Linked DNA regions of Homo sapiens. The protein of the gene in region 1 interacts with the protein of each later gene in a biochemical or structural test. Each region holds a gene or a part of one and is shown on either strand. Other genes may lie near its edges. The genes, in order: PTPN23 and WDR4.

Region 1 (8,514 bases):
TTCATGGCACCAAAAACAATTATAATAGTAACATCAAAGATCACTGATCACTGATCACCATAACAGATATATAATAAAAAAGTTTGAAATATTGTGAGAATTACTAAAATGTGACACAGAGTCATGAAATGAGCACATGCTGCTGGAAAAATGGTGCCGACAGGCCTGTGTGATGCAGAATTGTCACAAACCTTCAGTCTGTAAAAAACACAGCACCTGTGAAGTGCAATAAAATGAGGTATGCTGTATTTTTTTCCTGATTATTGTATGTACTATTGGATAACAACATGTTTTCCCTTATGTTTTTGTTAGAAGGGTAAGAGTCTGCACTGGCATGGCTGAACTTGAGTACCAGTAATGTAGATACATGCCATAGAAATCAGTAGCTGTTAGTGTTTTCTTGTCTATCATGGACCACATACCAATCCTTGCAATAACCCAGCAGTACTAGCAACTATTGCCAGTATACTACCCATCAGTAAATTTTTGGATACATTTTCATTTAGTCTACTGAGTGAAGATATTTTCTTTTTTCTTTTTCTGAGACCTAGTCTTACTCTGTCACCCAGGCTGGAGTGCAATGGCGCGATCTCAGCTCACTGCAACCTCTACCTCCCAGGTTCAAGTGATTCTCCTGTCTCAGCCTCCTAAGTAGCTGGGACTACAGGCGCCCACCACCACGCCCGGCTAATTTTTTGTATTTTTAGTAGAGACAGGATTTCAACATGTTGGCCAGGCTGGTCTCGACCTCCTGACCTCAGGTAATCCACCTGTCTCGGCTTCCCAAATTGCTGGGATTACAGGTGTGAGCCACCGCGCCCCGCCTGGTGAAGATATTTTCTATGTCAGTTATTCAAAATTAGTACAAGGCCAGGTGCAGTGGCTCACGCCTGTAATGCTATCACTTTGGGAGGCTGAGGCAGGTGGATCACTTGAAATCAGGAGTTCGAGACCAGCCTGGCCAACATGGCGAAACCCCCTCTCTACGAAAAATACAAAAATTAGTCGGGCATGGTAGCAGCGCATGCCTGTAATCCCAGCTACTAGGGAGGCTAAGGCAGGAAAATTACTTGAACCCAGGAGGTGGAGGTTGCAGTGAGCCAAGATCGCACCCCTGCATCCAGCCTGGGCAACAGAGTGAGACTGTCTCAAAAAAGAAAAGCTAGAAATTATTACACTTAGTAAGGAAGGCACGTGAAAAACTGAGATAGGCCAAAAGCTAGGCCTCTTGCACCAGATCACCAAGTTAGGAATGCAAAGAAAAAATTCTTGAAGGAAATTAAAAAAGAATCGAATGATGTCATATCTCTGGATATCAGATTCTCCCCCTTCCCCGGGATTTGCTGGGTTTTTTTGTGTGTTTTTGATTGTTGTAGGCTACCCCTGTGCCAAGAATCAGCCTGAAATGTAAACTTAAAGTTTTTTTTTTTTTTTTCCCGAGACAGGGTTTCGCTCTGTCGTCCAGGCAGGAGTGCAGTGGCACAATCACGGCTCACTGCAGCCTCCATCTCCCCAGTTCAAACCATCCTCCCACTGCAGCCCCCAAGTAGCTGGGACTACAAGTGCACACCACCGCATCCAGCCAATTTTTAAATTTTTTGTAGAGATGGGGTTCCCCTGTGTTGCCCAGGCTGGTCTCAAACTCCTGGGCTCAAGTGATCTTCTGGCCCCAGCCTCCCAAAGTGTTGGGATTAAAGGCATGAGCCGCAGCACCCGGCCTTGTAAACTTAAGGTCTTCACAGGTCTTTTCTGAGCCTGTACCATTCCCTGCACATGTGCAGACTTTCTCATTTGCCCTATATATGTGGTTGCTTTTGAACATCTTACTCTTTAGTGTCTGCCTCCCAAAGGAGGAAAAAGAGAAAAATGAAGAAGGGAAAAGATGCCAGGCCTTTAGATCCCTTGGAAGTTCCTTCAGCTAGAGGTGAAGAAGCTTACAGCCGTGGAGGGAGGTGCAATAGTGGAGGAGCTGCCTCTTTCTCTGTACCTCTGTGATCAGAAGCAGCAATCAGCAAGATCTCCTGTATTTGGAGGACAGAGTCCTTTTTGTCCATGCTGGCTCCCACAAGCTGCTCCTGGAACTGGTGCTGGGGGTGGGGGATGGGTGGCTGCTACTATGGTAGGGGCTGAAATTGACCAAAATTAATGGCAGTGAGCTGTACTGTCAAAGCCTTTGCCTAGAAGTTGCAAGCCTTTAATAGACTCCAGAGTTAAGTCAGATTCTGCCAGTGCAGCTTGTCTTGGTGGGGAGACCAAGCTTCTTCTTATGCTGTCTTCTCAGAACCCTCCTCATAAGTTGAATCTTTAAAAAGGGTTTATTTGAACAAAGTTTGAAAACTAGTGAGATAATCTTAGCCCCTGGGGCAACCGTCATTTTGCACACACAGGCACACACTACACACAAGGACGCAACACACCCTAGAAGGAGCATTACCACCAATCTCCAAAGCATCCTCTGAGACATATCCTCCAAAGCATAAGGCAGGCAACCTGCACAGAGCAATGGGCTGGGTAGAGCAGCCCCTGAGAGAGCTGTGAGCCAGCAGCCTTCAGACCTGTGCTTTTCCAGTGCGAAAAAAGCTCACACATGGCCATCTGGGGTAGCCACTTCCCCTTCCTGGGACTTGGTTTAATTTATCCCAGCAATGTGGGAGTTGGACTAGATCACTGTTTTTTTTGTTTTTGTTTTTAAAGACAGAGTCTCACTCTGTCACCCAGGCTGGGGTGCAGTCTATCTTGGCTCATTGCAACGTCTGCCTCCTGGATTCAAGCGATCCTCCTACCTCAGCCTCCTGAGTACCTGGGACAAGTATGCACCACCATGCCTGGCTAATTTTTGTATTTTTTGTAGACATGGAGTCTCGTATATTCCCCAGGCTGGTCTTAAACTACTGGCCTCAAGCAATCCTCTGCCTCAGCCTCCGAAAATGCTGGGATTACAGGCGTGAGTCACCACGCCTAGTCTAGATCACTGTTCCTTATACTTGTGAAACCCCAGAACAAATTTTCTTACATAGGACGTTGATAATAATCTTTCAGTGAAAAAGTTATTGGAAGCTTTAGGCAGTCCTCTTTCCCTGATCTGAGCCTCAGTTTCCTCATCTGTAAAACCAGGGTTTGAATAGTTGTTTCTAGGAAGACTTTCCTTTTTAAACTCTGAAATAAATTCTTGGCTCTGTGATTACAGGGAATAAAACTGACAGGTGCAGGGGATGCTATGGGGGCATCACAGCATCAAGCTCTCTCTCAGACTCCTCTGTGCGGCTCTGCGCAGCTCGTCTGAGAGTCTGACAGACCAGGCTAGAACCACAGGGGGCTGCATTCTTGGGTGGATTAAAGGGTACAGGTGATCTCTTGGATCTGGAGGGGAGACTGCTTCCATTGTTTCCCAAAGATGGTTTTAGGAAGTACAAGACAAATTTTATTTTATTATTTATTTATTTTTGACACAGAGTTTCACTCCTATTGCCCAGGGTGGAGTGCAATGGCACAACCTCGGCTCACCACAACCTCTGCCTCCAGGGTTCAAGCGATTCTCCTGCCTCAGCCTCCCGAGTAGCTGGGATTACAGGCACTCGCCATCACGCCCAGCTATATTTTGTATTTTTAGTAGAGACAGGGTTTCTCCATGTTGGCCAGACTGGTCTCAAACTCTCAACCTCAGGTGATCCACCCGCCTTGGCCTCCCAAAGTGCTGGGATTATAGGTGTGAGCCACAGCACCCGGCTTTTATTTTATTTTATTTTATTTATTTTGTTTTATTATTTTATTTTTTGAGATGGAGTCTCACTCTGTTGCCCAGGCTGGAGTGCAGTGGCGCAATCTCGGCTTACTGCAAGCTCCGCCTCCCGGGTTCACGCCATTCTTCTGCCTCAGCCTCCCAAGTAGCTGGGACTACAGGTGCCCGTCACCATGCCTGGCTAATTTTTGTATTTTTAGTAGAGACAGGGTTTCACCTTGTTAGCCAGGGTGGTCTTGATCTCCTGACCTCGTGATCCGCCTGCCTCGGCCTCCCAAACTGCTGGGATTACAGGCGTGAGCCACTGCGTCCGGCCTTTTATTTTATTTTTTGAGATAGGGTCTCACTCTGTTGCCCAGGCTGAAGTGCAGTGGCATGATCATGGCTCACTGCAGCCTCCACCTCCCAGGCTCAATCACTTCTCCCCCTTCCCAAGCCTGTAGTCCTGAGTAGCTGGGACTACAGGTATGCATCACCGCACCTGGCCAATTTTTGTATTTTTTGTAGAGGCGGAGTCTCGCCATGTTCTTCAGGCTGGTCTCAAAATCCTGGGCTCAAGTGATCCTCCCACTTTGGCCTCCCAAAGTGCTGGGATTATAGGCATGAGCCACCATGCCCGGCCAAGATTTTTCAATACTTTTATATGTGCTATTTTAGTGAGTATTGAAAAAAACTGTGTGGCTAGCGCATCACACCTGTGATTTTAGAGCTGTTATTGCTTAGGATGTGGCTCTTAATTTTAAAAATGGATTGTTTAAAGAAAAATGTTAAGTACAAGTGGTATTTGGATATGGCAGAGGTCATGATGGAGGGGTATGATAAGAATGACTAGATTTGAGAAGCATTGGCCTAATGCTGTGAGCTGCAGCTGTGACATGCCTTATCCTTGCACTGGGCATTCTAGAAGCCTCACTACCAGGGAGATTATCATCCCTGTTTAAAGAAGAGACTGAGTTTCAGAGTCTCCCAAGACACTGCTGGGAAGTGGTGTAGAGTACAACTGGTGCCTGACTTTTCTGTTCCACTGTCCCCAGGGTGTATGTACCCCATCTGAGAGCATCCCTGCTGGCAGCTCAGAGCCGAGCTCCCAGAGTGGAGTGTCCTGGAGGATTTCTTCTGGCTAAGTCCTAGTGAGAGGCTCTGGTCCTCTCTGCAGGGGGCTGAGGGCAGACAGGTGTCAAGCCATCCCCCTCACTGTGCACCTGCTCCTTGGAGGGTGTATTGTTTGCTTTTCTGTTTGTTTAAGCAGAGGGTTCATTTTTTTGTTGTTTTCCCCCCAAAATAATAGCTCTGTTGTTTATCATAAATATTGAAAATGTTTAATATAAATACATAAACAATATGAAGAATTAAATACATGTCTGTCAGATGTATACATATTTATCTATTTATTTATTATTATTATTATTATTTGAGACCGAGTCTCACTCTGTCACCCAGGCTGGAGTGCAGTGGTGCAACCTCAGCTCACTGCAACTTCTGCTCCCCGGATTCAAGTGATTCTCCTGCCTCAGCCTCCTGAGTAGCTGGAATTACAGGTGCGCACCATCATGCCTGGCTACTTTTTGTGTTTTTAGTAGATACGGGGTTTCACCACGTTGCCCAGGCTGGTCTCGAATTCCTGGGCTCAAGCGATCCACCCGCCTCAGCCTCCCAAAGTGTTGGGATTATAGGCGTGAGCCACCTCGCCCAGCCATATCTATCTATTTATATAGAATAAGATAAATTACTTAAATCCTGTCATTCAGCGATAATCACGGTTAACATTATGGTGTACAGTCTTCTGAATTTTCTTTTTGTTTATGTACCTATTTGTGGGTTTTTTTGTTTTTTCTTTTGAGACAGAGTTTTTCTCTTGTTGCCCAGCCTGGAGTGCAATGGCATGATCTCAGCTCACTGCAACCTCCGCCTCCCAGATTCAAACGATTCTCTTGCCTAAGCCTCCCGAGTAGCTGGGATTACAGGCACACACCACCACACCCAGCTAATTTTTGTATTTTTAGTAGAGACGGGGTTTCACCATGTTGGCCAGGCTGGCATCGAACTCCTGACCTTAGGTGATCCATCCGCCTTGGCCTCCCAAAGTGCTAGGATTATGGGCGTGAGCCACCTTGCCTGGCCTGTGTACCCATTTGGATATCAGTATTTGTATGATCCCATTTGTTACATTCTTTTTTTTTTTTTTTGAGACGGAGTCTCGCTGTCGCCCAGGCTGGAGTGCAGTGGCGCGATTTCGGCTCACTGCAGGCTCCGCCCCCCGGGGGTTCACGCCATTCTCCTGCTTCAGCCTCCCTAGTAGCTGGGTCTACAGGTGCCTGCCACCACGTCCGGCTAATTTTTTGTATTTTTAGTAGAGACGGGGTTTCACCGTGTTAGCCAGGATGGTCTCGATCTCCTGACCTCGTGATCCTCCCGCCTCGGCCTCCGAAAGTGCTGGGATTACAGGCGTGAGCCACTGCACCTGGCCACATTCTTTTCTTTTTTTTTTCCCCCAATAGCATGCCATAGGCATCTTAACATATGAGTAACTAGAGACTCTTGTCTTTAGTTTTCATGGCTGCAGCATATTCTCTTGTGAGGCGCCTTGACATAATTAATTTAAAACAGTCCCCTTTAGTGGGAATTTTGGTGGGTATCCAGTTTTACCTTTTGCTTTTTTTGAGAGACAGGGTCTTGCTTCATCACCCAGGCTGGAAAACAGTGGCACAACCATAGCTCACTGCAGCCTTAACCTCCCAGGCTCAATCGATCTTTTCCCGTCGGCCTCCCAAGGAGCTGGGACCAAAGGCACCATCACGCCTAGATAATTTTTAAAATTCTTTTTTGTTGAGACAGGGTCTTGCTACATTGCCCAGACTGGTATCTAACTCCTGGCCTCAAGCGATCCTCCCACCTTGGCCTCCCAAAATGCTGGGACCACATGTGTGAGCCCCTGCACCTGACCTGGAGTCCAGTTTTTGACCCTGGTAATAATGCTGTGATGAATATCCTTGCGTTCATATCCAAGCATTTGCTTTCCTGGAAGTCTGTTACTGTAAACTTTTAGATACAGAACTGTAGGTCATGCTGAGTGTGGCAGCTCACACCTTTAATCCCATCACTTTGGGAGGTAGAGATGGGAGGATCACTTGAGCCCAGGAGTTTGAGAACAGCCTGGGCAACATGGCAAAACCCTGTCTCTATTAAATTCAAAAAACTGTGGGCCAAAAGTTAAGTAGAGTAAAAAACTTAAAACATGTTGCAAACTGCTTTTCAGATGTTTGAGATGGGCTGGGCACAGTGGCTCATGCCTGTAATCCCAGCACTTTGAGAGGCTGAGGCGGGTGGATCACAAGGTCAAGTGTTCGAGACCAGCCTGGCCAAAATGGGGAAACCCCGCCTCTACTAAAAATACAAAATTAGCCAGGCATGGTGGCGTGTGCCTGTAGTCTCAGCTAATTGGGAGGCTGAGGCAGGAGAATTGCTTGAACCCAGGAGGTTGCAGTGAATACTGCATTCCAGCCTGGGTGACAGAATGAGACTCTTTTTTTTTTTTTTTTTTAAAAAAGGAAAAACTATGTGGGATAGATTCAGTCGGCCAGCTGCCAGCCCTGGCTTGTGGAATGTTTTGTTGAACGACTATAGGTATAGCCATGGACTTTTTGGGATCCCTTGGTGTGTGCAGTCGGCCAGCTGTGATGCATTTTCCTGGCATTTGTGAGTTAGCTGGCCTGCGTGTCCACTGCCCCATATGACAACAGGCCTGCTTCTCCCATCCTGCCCCCCAGAATGCTGTCCGTGTCCCACGAGACTTTGAGGGCTGTAGTGTCCTCCGCAAGTACCTCGGCCAGCTTCATTACCTGCAGAGTCGGGTCCCCATGGGCTCGGGCCAGGAGGCCGCTGTCCCTGTCACCTGGTGAGAGCCGCAGGCAGGGCTGGAGGATCCCACGGGGAGTCTGGGTGGTGGGGGTGCTCCTCCCCTCCCTTCCCCCTTCTCCTTGCTGCATAGGATGGGGAATGGCCTCATATGGTCCCCCCAGGCCTCCCCACATCCCCACAATGGGGTGTTTAGTCCCCTTACCTAATCTCAGGGCCCTGGCTAGCTCCTGCCCTCGAGATAACTGGGGTGCCATGTCTGCAGGACAGAGATCTTCTCAGGCAAGTCTGTGGCCCATGAGGACATCAAGTACGAGCAGGCCTGTATTCTCTACAACCTTGGTGAGCTGCCTGATCCCTTCCCCCGGCCCTACTCCCCAGTCCTGCCAGCCTAGCTTTCAGCTCTTCAGATGGCCACAAAGGCAGTGGGCTGATAAAGGGAGGACTCCAGGATTCCCGCCCCTCCACTGACCTCCCCACAGCCCTGCCAGCTCCTCCACTGTTTTCTGGGCTGGGCCCGTGGGGAGCCTCTGCTGGGGCGAGGCTCTACTGGGCTGGCTGCCACACAGAGTTGCCACTGTGTGCTCTGTCTGGGAGAGAGGGCCTTTCTTCTTTGACTGGACAGCCCCTCCCCACTGTGGTTTTGGGCTGCTTCAGGCAGGAGGAGAGTGTGGCTGGCCTCAGCTTACCCTGCTAGTCAGCCTTAGCCTGGCTCAAGGGAGAAGCTTGGGGAGCCCCAGAGTTCTGTGCAAACATCCCTGAAGCTTCAAGATTGGACCCCTTGGACAGGAGCCCTTCCATCCTCTGCCAAATGCAGAGCAGGAGACTGAGGGCTGGGCAGGACTTCTGAGTTTCCCTGTTCCCTCCAGCTTGGGTGTCCTTGGACTCGTTGCCCTGGTTCTCAGAGCCATGTTGTCCTG
Region 2 (8,817 bases), on another chromosome or scaffold:
GCAGGAGAATCACTTGAAGCTCAGAGAGGGAGGTTGCAGTGAGCTGGATTGCACCATTGCACTTCAGACTGGGGGACACAGTGAGACTCTGTCGGAAAAAAACAAACAAAAAAGACATAATAACAAGTGATGGTGAGGATGTGGAGAAACTGGAACCACAATGTAGTGCTGGTGGGACTATAAAGTGCTGTAGCCACTTTGTGAATCAGCTTGGCGGTCCCTGAAAAGGACTTTTTTTTTTTTGAGGTGGAGTCTGGCTCTGTTGCCCAGGCTGGAGTGCAATGGCGTGATCTCGGCTCACTGCAACCTCTGCCTCCCGGGTTCAAGTGATTCTCCTGCCTCAGCCTCCTGAGTAGCTGGGATTACAGGTACGCAACACCACGACCAGCTAATTTTTGTATTTTTAGTAGAAGTGGGGTTTCACAATGTTGGTCAGGCTGATTTCGAACTCCTGACCTTGTGATCCACCCACCTCGGCCTCCCAAAGTGCTGGGATTACAGGTGTGATCCATCACCCAGGCTGGAGTGCAGTGGCGCAATCTCAGCTCATTGCAACCTCTACCTCCCAGGTTCAATCCACCACACCTGGCCAGTTCCTGAAAAGTTTAAATGTTACCATATGACTCAACAATTCCATTCCCAGTGGAATGTTCACAACACCATTATTCATTATAGCCAAAAGGTGGGAAATCCCAAACTGCCTATCAACCAATGAGCAGATAAACAAAATGTGATATATGTGATATATGCATTCAGTGGAATATTATTCGGCCATGAAAAGCAGTGAAGTACTGATACATGCTACAATATCCATGAACCTTGGAAACCTAATATTCAGTGACAGAAGCCAGATTATATGAAATGTCCAGACTAGCAAAATCCATAAAACAAAGTAGATTAATGGTTACCAGGGGTTTATGGGGAGGGTGAAAGGGGGAGTGACTGCTACTGGGTTTAAGATTTATTTTGTGGGTGATGAAAATGTTCTAAAATTGTGGTGATGGATGCACAATTCTGTATATATACTAAAACCCACTGAAATGTACACATTACCACATATCAGGTGGATTACAACAGTAAGAATTTATTCTCACAGTTCTGGAGGCCAGAAGTCTGAAGTCAGGGTGTTGGCTGGGCCACGCTCCTTCTGAAAGGTCTAGGGGAGAATTCTTCCTCATCTTTCTCTTGGCTTCTGGTGTTGCCAGCAATCCTTGAATTATGGCCACATAACTTCAATCTCTGTTTCTGTCTTCATCTGGCATTCTCCTCTGTCTTCTCCCTTCTCTTCTCAGTACACATAACATTCGATTTAGGGTCCACCCAAATCCAGGATGCTCTCATTTTGCAATCCTTAACTTAATCACATTAGAAAAGACCCTTTCCCCAAAAAAGGTCACATCCCCAGTTTCCAGGGGTGGACATACATTTTAGGGGGCCACCTTTCAACCCACTACAACCACCATGAAATTAATGGGTCTTTGTCCATTTTTGTTTTTACACAATTTTTTTTTTAACTGAAGGACCATAAGACAATGCTTATGTCGTCTTGCCAGTTTGTAAAAAAAAAAAAAAAAAGGGTAACTTCTTGCCCATTTTTCTTTTTTTTTTTTTTTTTGAGACAGAGTCTCACTCTGTTACTCGGGTTGGAGTGCAGTGGCGCAATCTCGGCTCACTGCAATCTCCACCTCCTCGGTTCAAGTGATTCTCGTACCTCAGCCTCCTGAGTATCTGGGACTACAGGCACGCACCACCACTCCCAGCTGATTTTTCTATTTTTTTTTTTTTTTTTTTGAGACGGAGTCTTGCTCCGTCACCCAGGCTGGAGTGCAGTGGCATGATCTCGGCTTATTGCAACCTCCACCTCCCACGTTCAAGCGGTTGTCCTGCCTCAGCCTCCCAAGTAGCTGGGACTACAGGCGTCCGCCACCATGCCCGGCTAATTTTTGTATTTTTAGTACAGACGGGGTTTCACTATGTTGGCCAGGCTGGTCTCAAACTCCTGACCTCAGATGATCCACCTGCCTTGGCCTCTCAAAGTGCTGGGATTACAGGCGTTAGCCACTGCGCCCAGCCTGATTTTTGTATTTTTAGTAGAGATGGGGTTTCCCCATGTTGGCCAGGCTGGTCTCAAACTTCTGACCTCAATTGATTCTCCTACCTTGGCCTCCCAAAGTGCTGGGATTACAGGTGTGAGTCACCGTGCCTGGCCTTTTTGCCCATTTTTCTATTGTGCTAATGGAAGGATTCTCAGGTTCCTAATACCTTTTGCTCAGGACAGGACTAGAAATACAACACAACAATCCATAAGTTTTTTTTTTCTTTTTTCTGAGATGGAGTTTCACCCTTGTTGCCCAGGCTGGAATGCAATGGGTGATCTTGGCTCACTGTAACCTCCACCTCCTGGGTTCTAGTGATTCTCCTGCCTCAGCCTTCTGAGTAGCTGGGATTACAGGTGCATGCCACCAAGCCCAGCTAATTTTTGTATTTTTAGTAGAGATGGGGTTTCACCGTGTTGGCCAGGCTGGTCTCAAACTCCTGACCTCAGGTGATCTGCTCGCCTTGGCCTCCTAAAGTGTTGGGATTACAGGTGTGAGCCACTGCACCCGGCCAATCCATAAGTTTCTTAATTGAAAAAGAAAGCCCACACTCACTCTAGGCTAATGTAATCAATGATTTATAAAAATGGCCATAGTTGGGCCGGGTGCAGTGGCTCACGCCTGTAATCCCAACACTTTGGGAGGCCGAGGCGGGCAGATCACCTGAGGTCAGGAGTTTGAGACCAGCCTGACTAACATGGATCATGGATCACGCCTGTAATCCCAGCACTTTGGGAGGCCAAGGTAGGAGAATCAATTGAGGTCAGGAGTTTGAGACCAGCCTGGCCAACATGGTGAAACCCCGTCTCTACTAAAAATACAAAATTAGCTGGGCACGGTGGCACATGCCTGTAATTCCAGCTACTTGGGAGGCTGATGCAGAATCGCTTGAACCCGGGAGGCAGAGGTTTTGGTGAGCGGAGATCACGCCATTGCACTCCAGCCTGGGCAACAAGAGTGAAACTCCGCCTCAAAAAAAAAGAAAAAAAGAAAGCCATAGTTTTTATGAGCTTGTTGATCTATATCTAGGACTACAAGGAAGATATGCATGCTACAGACATTTGTACCTAGCAGTAGGTGCTACTGTAACATGTGGCATTAGCTTTGGACTAGAAGTCTGGAAAAGCAGTGGGGAAACTGGTAGTGAACACTGGAACAATGGTGAGGAAAACTACGGGAGGTGGACAAATGGTGAACAACTCTATGTCACGGTGAAGGATTTGTAAAATTGTTGCCCTTCAGTAAGATGGGCAGAGAAAAAGGCAACTACTGAACTCTGGGACTTGAAAAAGATCATATCAGTATAATGTTGAGATTAACCTGTGTTTCTTTTGCTTGAATATGTTGAGACACTTATAGAAAAGAGTGTGGTTAAAAACAAACAAACAAACAAACTGGCCAGCAGAATTTAGAGCACACTTTGGGTTGAAGCTGGGGAAAGTATTATTAGACCCAATAGTTGGTAACAAGTTCTCAAAGTAAGTCATAACCTGGGCCAAAGATCAAATTCAGAGTGGCGCTAATAAAATATGGCCTTAAGAATAATGCTGAAGTCAAGGTGATCTCAATGATTTAAATGTTAACAAGTGGCTGGGCGCGGTGGCTCACGCCTGTAATCCCAGCACTTTGGGAGGCCGAGGCAGGCGGATCACAAGGTCAGGAGATCCAGAACATCCTGGCTAACATGGTGAAACCCCGTCTCCACTGAAAAATACAAAAAATTAGCCAGGCGTGGTGGCGGGCGCCTGTAGTCCCAGCTACTCAGGAGGCTGAGGCAGGAGAATGGCGTGAACTCGGGAGGTGGAGGTTGCACTTCAGCCTGGGCGACAGAGCGAGACTCCGTCTAAAAAAAAAAAAAAGACTAGTGGGAGTGGCTTCTTGGGCATGGAGAGCACCTGAATCAGATTCTTGAGAAGCCCATAAAGCTTTTAAGGGACTTGTAGTGAACAAAGCACCACCAGCTGCCAAAATGTGGACAGAACAGTTTAGAGTGAAAAAAGGTCTGTGGGCTCACAATTTGCTAATGACAGGAAGGAGGTTGAGAAAGTTTCTCAAAGGGCACATTCTTCAACATGGCCAAGAAGGTGCTGGAAAAGGAGGGACACCCAAGAGGGCAGAGGCAAGAGCTGTGCTGAGATACAGCCTGGGGAGATACTCCCAGGAAGCAGAACTCGGGCCTGGTTAAGACTTCTTATTCTTGTAGGGCCTGAAAACATCTTCCAGTAGGATTTCAGAATTGCTTTGGACCAGTGATTACTGTGTCTCCTCCTCTTCTCATTTTCACATGCAAGTATTTATTGTGGTTATCTGGTCCCGGCTCACCATCATATATTGCGTGCACGGGAGAGAAAATTAATCTTTTTAGTTTGTAAGTCTCTGGATCAAGAGGAGCTGCACCGGACAAGCCAATCTAAAACAGACCGTGAGATCCTAGATTTTGTGCCTGATGCTGGGATTGTAAGAGGCTTTTGGGGATCTTGGGATGAACACTGGAAACTAACCATAGTTTGGGTTGAAAATATCACTACAGTTCGGAGATTTTAAGGCATCTGTGGCTTGTCTAAGTGCAAAGATTCAGTAGGCTTACTTCTAGCGACCTCAGACTTGACGCCACCCGAGACACCCTCACCCATGACCACATCTTGGACATTTTTTTTTTTTTTGAGAGAGAGTCTCGCTCTGTCGCCCTGGCTGGAGTGCAGCGGGGGCGATCTCGACTCACTGCAACCTCCGCCTCCCGGGTTCAGGCAATTCTTCTGTCTCAGCCTCCCAAGTAGTTGGGGCTACAGTCGCACGCCACCACGCCCAACAAATTTTTGTACTTTTAGTAGAAACGGGGTTTCACCATATTGGTCAGGCTGCTCTCGAACTGCTGACTTCATGTGAGCCACGGCCCCCGGTTCATTCACTTCTTGAAGGATCATTTACCAGGCATCTAGTAGCCATCATCAGGTCCTACGTCTCTCCAGCTACCGCGGAAAAAGATCCAGAACCAGCCCTACCCCGTCTAGAGGAAAGGATGAACATTAGGCAAGTACTTGGAATCGTGCGAAGTGCACTCCATCAGATCACCTTGGTGAGTGAACTGCCAAACCCGAAACACCGAAGGCCACCAGCCACAACCCGGAGGGCGGTCACAGCACCTTTCACGCATGCTCAAGGCAGGCTCGTCCTTGAGCATGCGCGGTACGTGGGGTATACGTCATCTCTCGGCGTCTGCGCCTGGCGTCACCGACCGGTGCGGACAGGAAGAGGCTCTGGGCTGGCACATGTGTATGGCGGTGAGGCGGGCGGGTACATGGCGGGCTCTGTGGGACTGGCGTTGTGCGGGCAGACGTTGGTGGTGCGGGGCGGCAGCCGATTCCTGGCCACCTCCATAGCAAGCAGGTGAGGGGGCCTTGGTCTTGGAACAGGGAGACCAGGCTGCGGGCGCGCGTCGGGTCCTGGCGACCCCGCTTCTCCCGCACCGCCTGGTCGCACCCACTCTGGGGTGACCCCGGGGAACTCCGCTCCAGCCCACGAGTCCTCCGCCGCAGTCTCGGCCTGGCCGCGTCTCTGCGCCTGGAGGGTCCGCTTTCGCCGTCCGCTCTCGGCGTCCGCTCCCCGGCTCCGGCGCGCTCCTTGCACTAGATGGCTGGTCTGCGGTGTTCTTGCCCGGTTAGCGCCGCCGGGTCGCTTCCGGTCTCCGCGGCGCCGGCGGGGACCGGGTAGGTAGAGCACGTGGGGCGACGCTGACCAGTCAGCAAGGCCCGGCCGAACACGCTCTGCAGAACTGGGAAGAAGCGGGTCTCGGGTCTCCCTGGTGAGAAGGGAGGGGCTTACTCACTGCGAGCTCACTGACCTCCAAGCGCGCTCCCTCTTTTTGCAGGGTTGTCTGTTCCCTCTTCCCGGCCTGCATCCACTCACCTGGCCTTAATTGCTCCTTAGGGCTCCAAGTCATCTCCGACACTTACCCAACCCAAGGGTGCACGTGGAGCTCGCAGTGCGCACCTCCCTAGTGGCCCTTCGCACGGCTCGGGTTTTGCTTTCCGTAATTTTATTCTCCTTCCTTAGTGTATCGCCAGTGCTAGGACGACGCAGGGGATTTTTAACTTAGTAAATGTTTGTTGATGGAACAGTCCTAACTCAGGACTCTCGGAGCAATTAGTAGTGCTGTCAGTTTCAGCCCCTCGTTTCCTTTCCCAGGTTATTTGTGATTTCATATTTGAAACGGACGACGTGTCTGTCAGATATACTGTATATTTTTTGTTCGTTTGGTTTTAGAAAGCCAATTCGATGTTAAGTTAGGTCTCACAAAAATTGTACTCAGAAACCCGTCACATATCCCAGATGATTTTGTTTTAGAGACTCACGGTCTAATATCTGCCAGAGTGAGCTGTGGATATATTAGACATGATTTGCTTACCTTCAGTCTTTGCATTTTGAGGAAATTCTAGTGGCTGGTGGAGTTTCTGACTTGGAAGACAAGTCCACGGTTCCATATGGAAAGTTTTTTGGTGCACTCGCTTTAAAGGCTATAAATATGTACAAGATACGTGCCAGGGGGTGAGGATGGGATAAACCGAAGTTTAGGTTCAGTATGGAAAATGGGTGATTCTTATGTTGGTAAGTGCCTGGGGTCATGGGAACACTTTCAGGTAGGTGAGATATGTTTCTAAATAGTAATGGCTCTTTGAAATTTGTATACAGAATCCCACTGAACGCTCAACAGTATCAGAACATAATTTCTTTTTTTTCTTTTTTTTTTTTTTTGAGGAGTCTCGCTTTGTCGCCCAGGCTGGAGTGCAGTGGCGCGATCTTGGCTCACTGCAAGCTCCGCCTCCCGGGTTCACGCCATTCTCCTGCCTCAGCCTCCCGAGTAGTTGGGACTGCAGGCGCCTGCCACCATGCCTGGCTAATTTTTTATATTTTTAGTGGAGATGGGGGTTTCACTGTGTTAGCCAGGCTGGTCTCGATCTCCTGACCTCGTGATCCGCCCATCTCGGCCTCCCAAAGTGCTGGGATTACAGGCGTGAACCACCGCGCCCGGCCCGTAATTTCTTATAACCATGTCGCATAGATTTTGTGGTGCCTAAAAGAATAGCATATTAATTCCTGTTGAGTATTTATCCCTCATTTGTTTTACTGAACTTTTTTTTCCCACAGAACTATGCAGTATGACGTACTCCAATAAGAGATTAAGCAAATAAAGTTTGTTAACTGTTCCCTGAAATATTGTATCTAGACAGTTTTCTTGTCAAGTATACAACTTTTAATTTAATGAGTGTGCAAATATTTTTTGTTCCACAGAGAAAAAAAATCAACTTTTTTTTTTTTTTTTTAACAAAGTGCTCTTTTAAAAATCATTGTTAGGCTGGGCGCAGTGGCTCTGCCTATAATCTCAGCACTTTGGGAGGCTGAGGCGGGCAGATCATCTGAGGTCAGGAGCTTGAGACCAGCCTGGCCAACATGGCGAAACCCCGTCTCTACCAAAACTACAAAAATTAGCCAGGCGTGGTGGCAGATACCTGTAATTCCAGCTACCGGGAAGGCTGAGGCGGGAGAATTGCTTGAATCCAGGAGGGGGAGGTTGCAGTGACCTGAGATCATGCCCTTGCACTCCAGCCTGAGTGATAGAGCGAGACTCCAACTCAAAAAAAAAAAAAAAAAAAAAAATTAGGGCCAGGCGCAGTGGCTCACATGGGCCAGGCGCAGTGGCTCACACCTGTGAGCACTTTGGGAGGCTGAGGTTGGTGGATCACCTGAGGTTGGGGATTTGAGATCACCCTGATCAACATGGAGAAACCCCGTTTCTACAAAAAGTAAAAATTAGCTGGGAGTGCTGGTGCATGCCTGTAATCTCAGCTACTGGGGAGGCTGAGGCAGGAGAATCGTTTGAACCTGGGAGGCGGAGGTTGCGGTGAGCCAAGATCGTGCCATTGTACTGGAGCCTGGACAACGAGAGCGAAACTCCGTCTCAAAAAAAAAAAATTTGTTATTTCTCTCTAATGATAACTCCTTTTAAAATTATTGTTATTTCTCTTTAGTGATGATGACAGCCTCTTCATCTATGACTGCAGTGCTGCAGAAAAGAAGTCACAAGAAAATAAAGGGTGAGATGTGGGGAAGCTTTTTCAGGGCCTGCTTTAATGGTTCGATAATGGGACCAGAGGGTCTAAGAAGCAATTGTTGTCCTACTTGCTGAATTCTTAGCTTCTGTCACACAGTGGTGCAGATAAGTAGCACCTCAGGAGAGACATGTAAAAGTAACTTTTAGGTTAGGCATTAAGAGTACATTGTTGGCTGAGCACGGTGGCTTATGCCTGTAATCCCAGCACTTTGGGAGGCCAAGGTGGGTGGATCACCTGAGGTCAGAATTTCCAGACCATCCTGGCCAACATGGCGAAACCCTGTCTCTACTAAAAATAAAAAAGTTAGCTGGGCGTGGTGGCAGGCACCTGTAATCCCGTCTACTTGGGAGGCTGAGGCACAAGAATCACTTGAACCTGGGAGGCGGAGGTTGCAGAGAGCTGAGATTGCGGCATTGCACTCCAGCCTGGGGAATAGAGCAAGACTCTGTCTCCCAAAAAAAAAAAGAGTACAGTGTTAGTGCCGGGTGCGGTGGCTCATGCCTATAATCTCAGCACTTTGGGAAGCCAGGGTGCTGACTGAGGTCAGAAGTTCAAAGCCAGCCTTGCCAATGTGATGAAACTCCATCTCTACTAAAAATAGCCAGGCATGC

Evidence for each region.
Region 2: the proteins of PTPN23 (region 1) and WDR4 form a complex in vitro, tested with the Homo sapiens proteins (one study listed by BioGRID).

What each region holds. Positions count from the first base shown.
Region 1 is NC_000003.12:47,397,146-47,405,659, forward strand, and holds part of PTPN23 (tyrosine-protein phosphatase non-receptor type 23), read left to right. Parts: intron 1-7,506; coding exon 7,507-7,634; intron 7,635-7,859; coding exon 7,860-7,936; intron 7,937-8,514. UniProt on the Homo sapiens protein: Plays a role in sorting of endocytic ubiquitinated cargos into multivesicular bodies (MVBs) via its interaction with the ESCRT-I complex (endosomal sorting complex required for transport I), and possibly also other ESCRT complexes.
Region 2 is NC_000021.9:42,876,073-42,884,889, reverse strand, and holds the start of WDR4 (tRNA (guanine-N(7)-)-methyltransferase non-catalytic subunit WDR4), read left to right. Parts: upstream 1-5,350; 5' UTR 5,351-5,394; coding exon 5,395-5,483; exon of another isoform or gene 5,484-5,726; coding exon of another isoform or gene 5,727-5,803; exon of another isoform or gene 5,804-5,898; intron 5,899-8,122; coding exon 8,123-8,188; intron 8,189-8,817. UniProt on the Homo sapiens protein: Non-catalytic component of the METTL1-WDR4 methyltransferase complex required for the formation of N(7)-methylguanine in a subset of RNA species, such as tRNAs, mRNAs and microRNAs (miRNAs).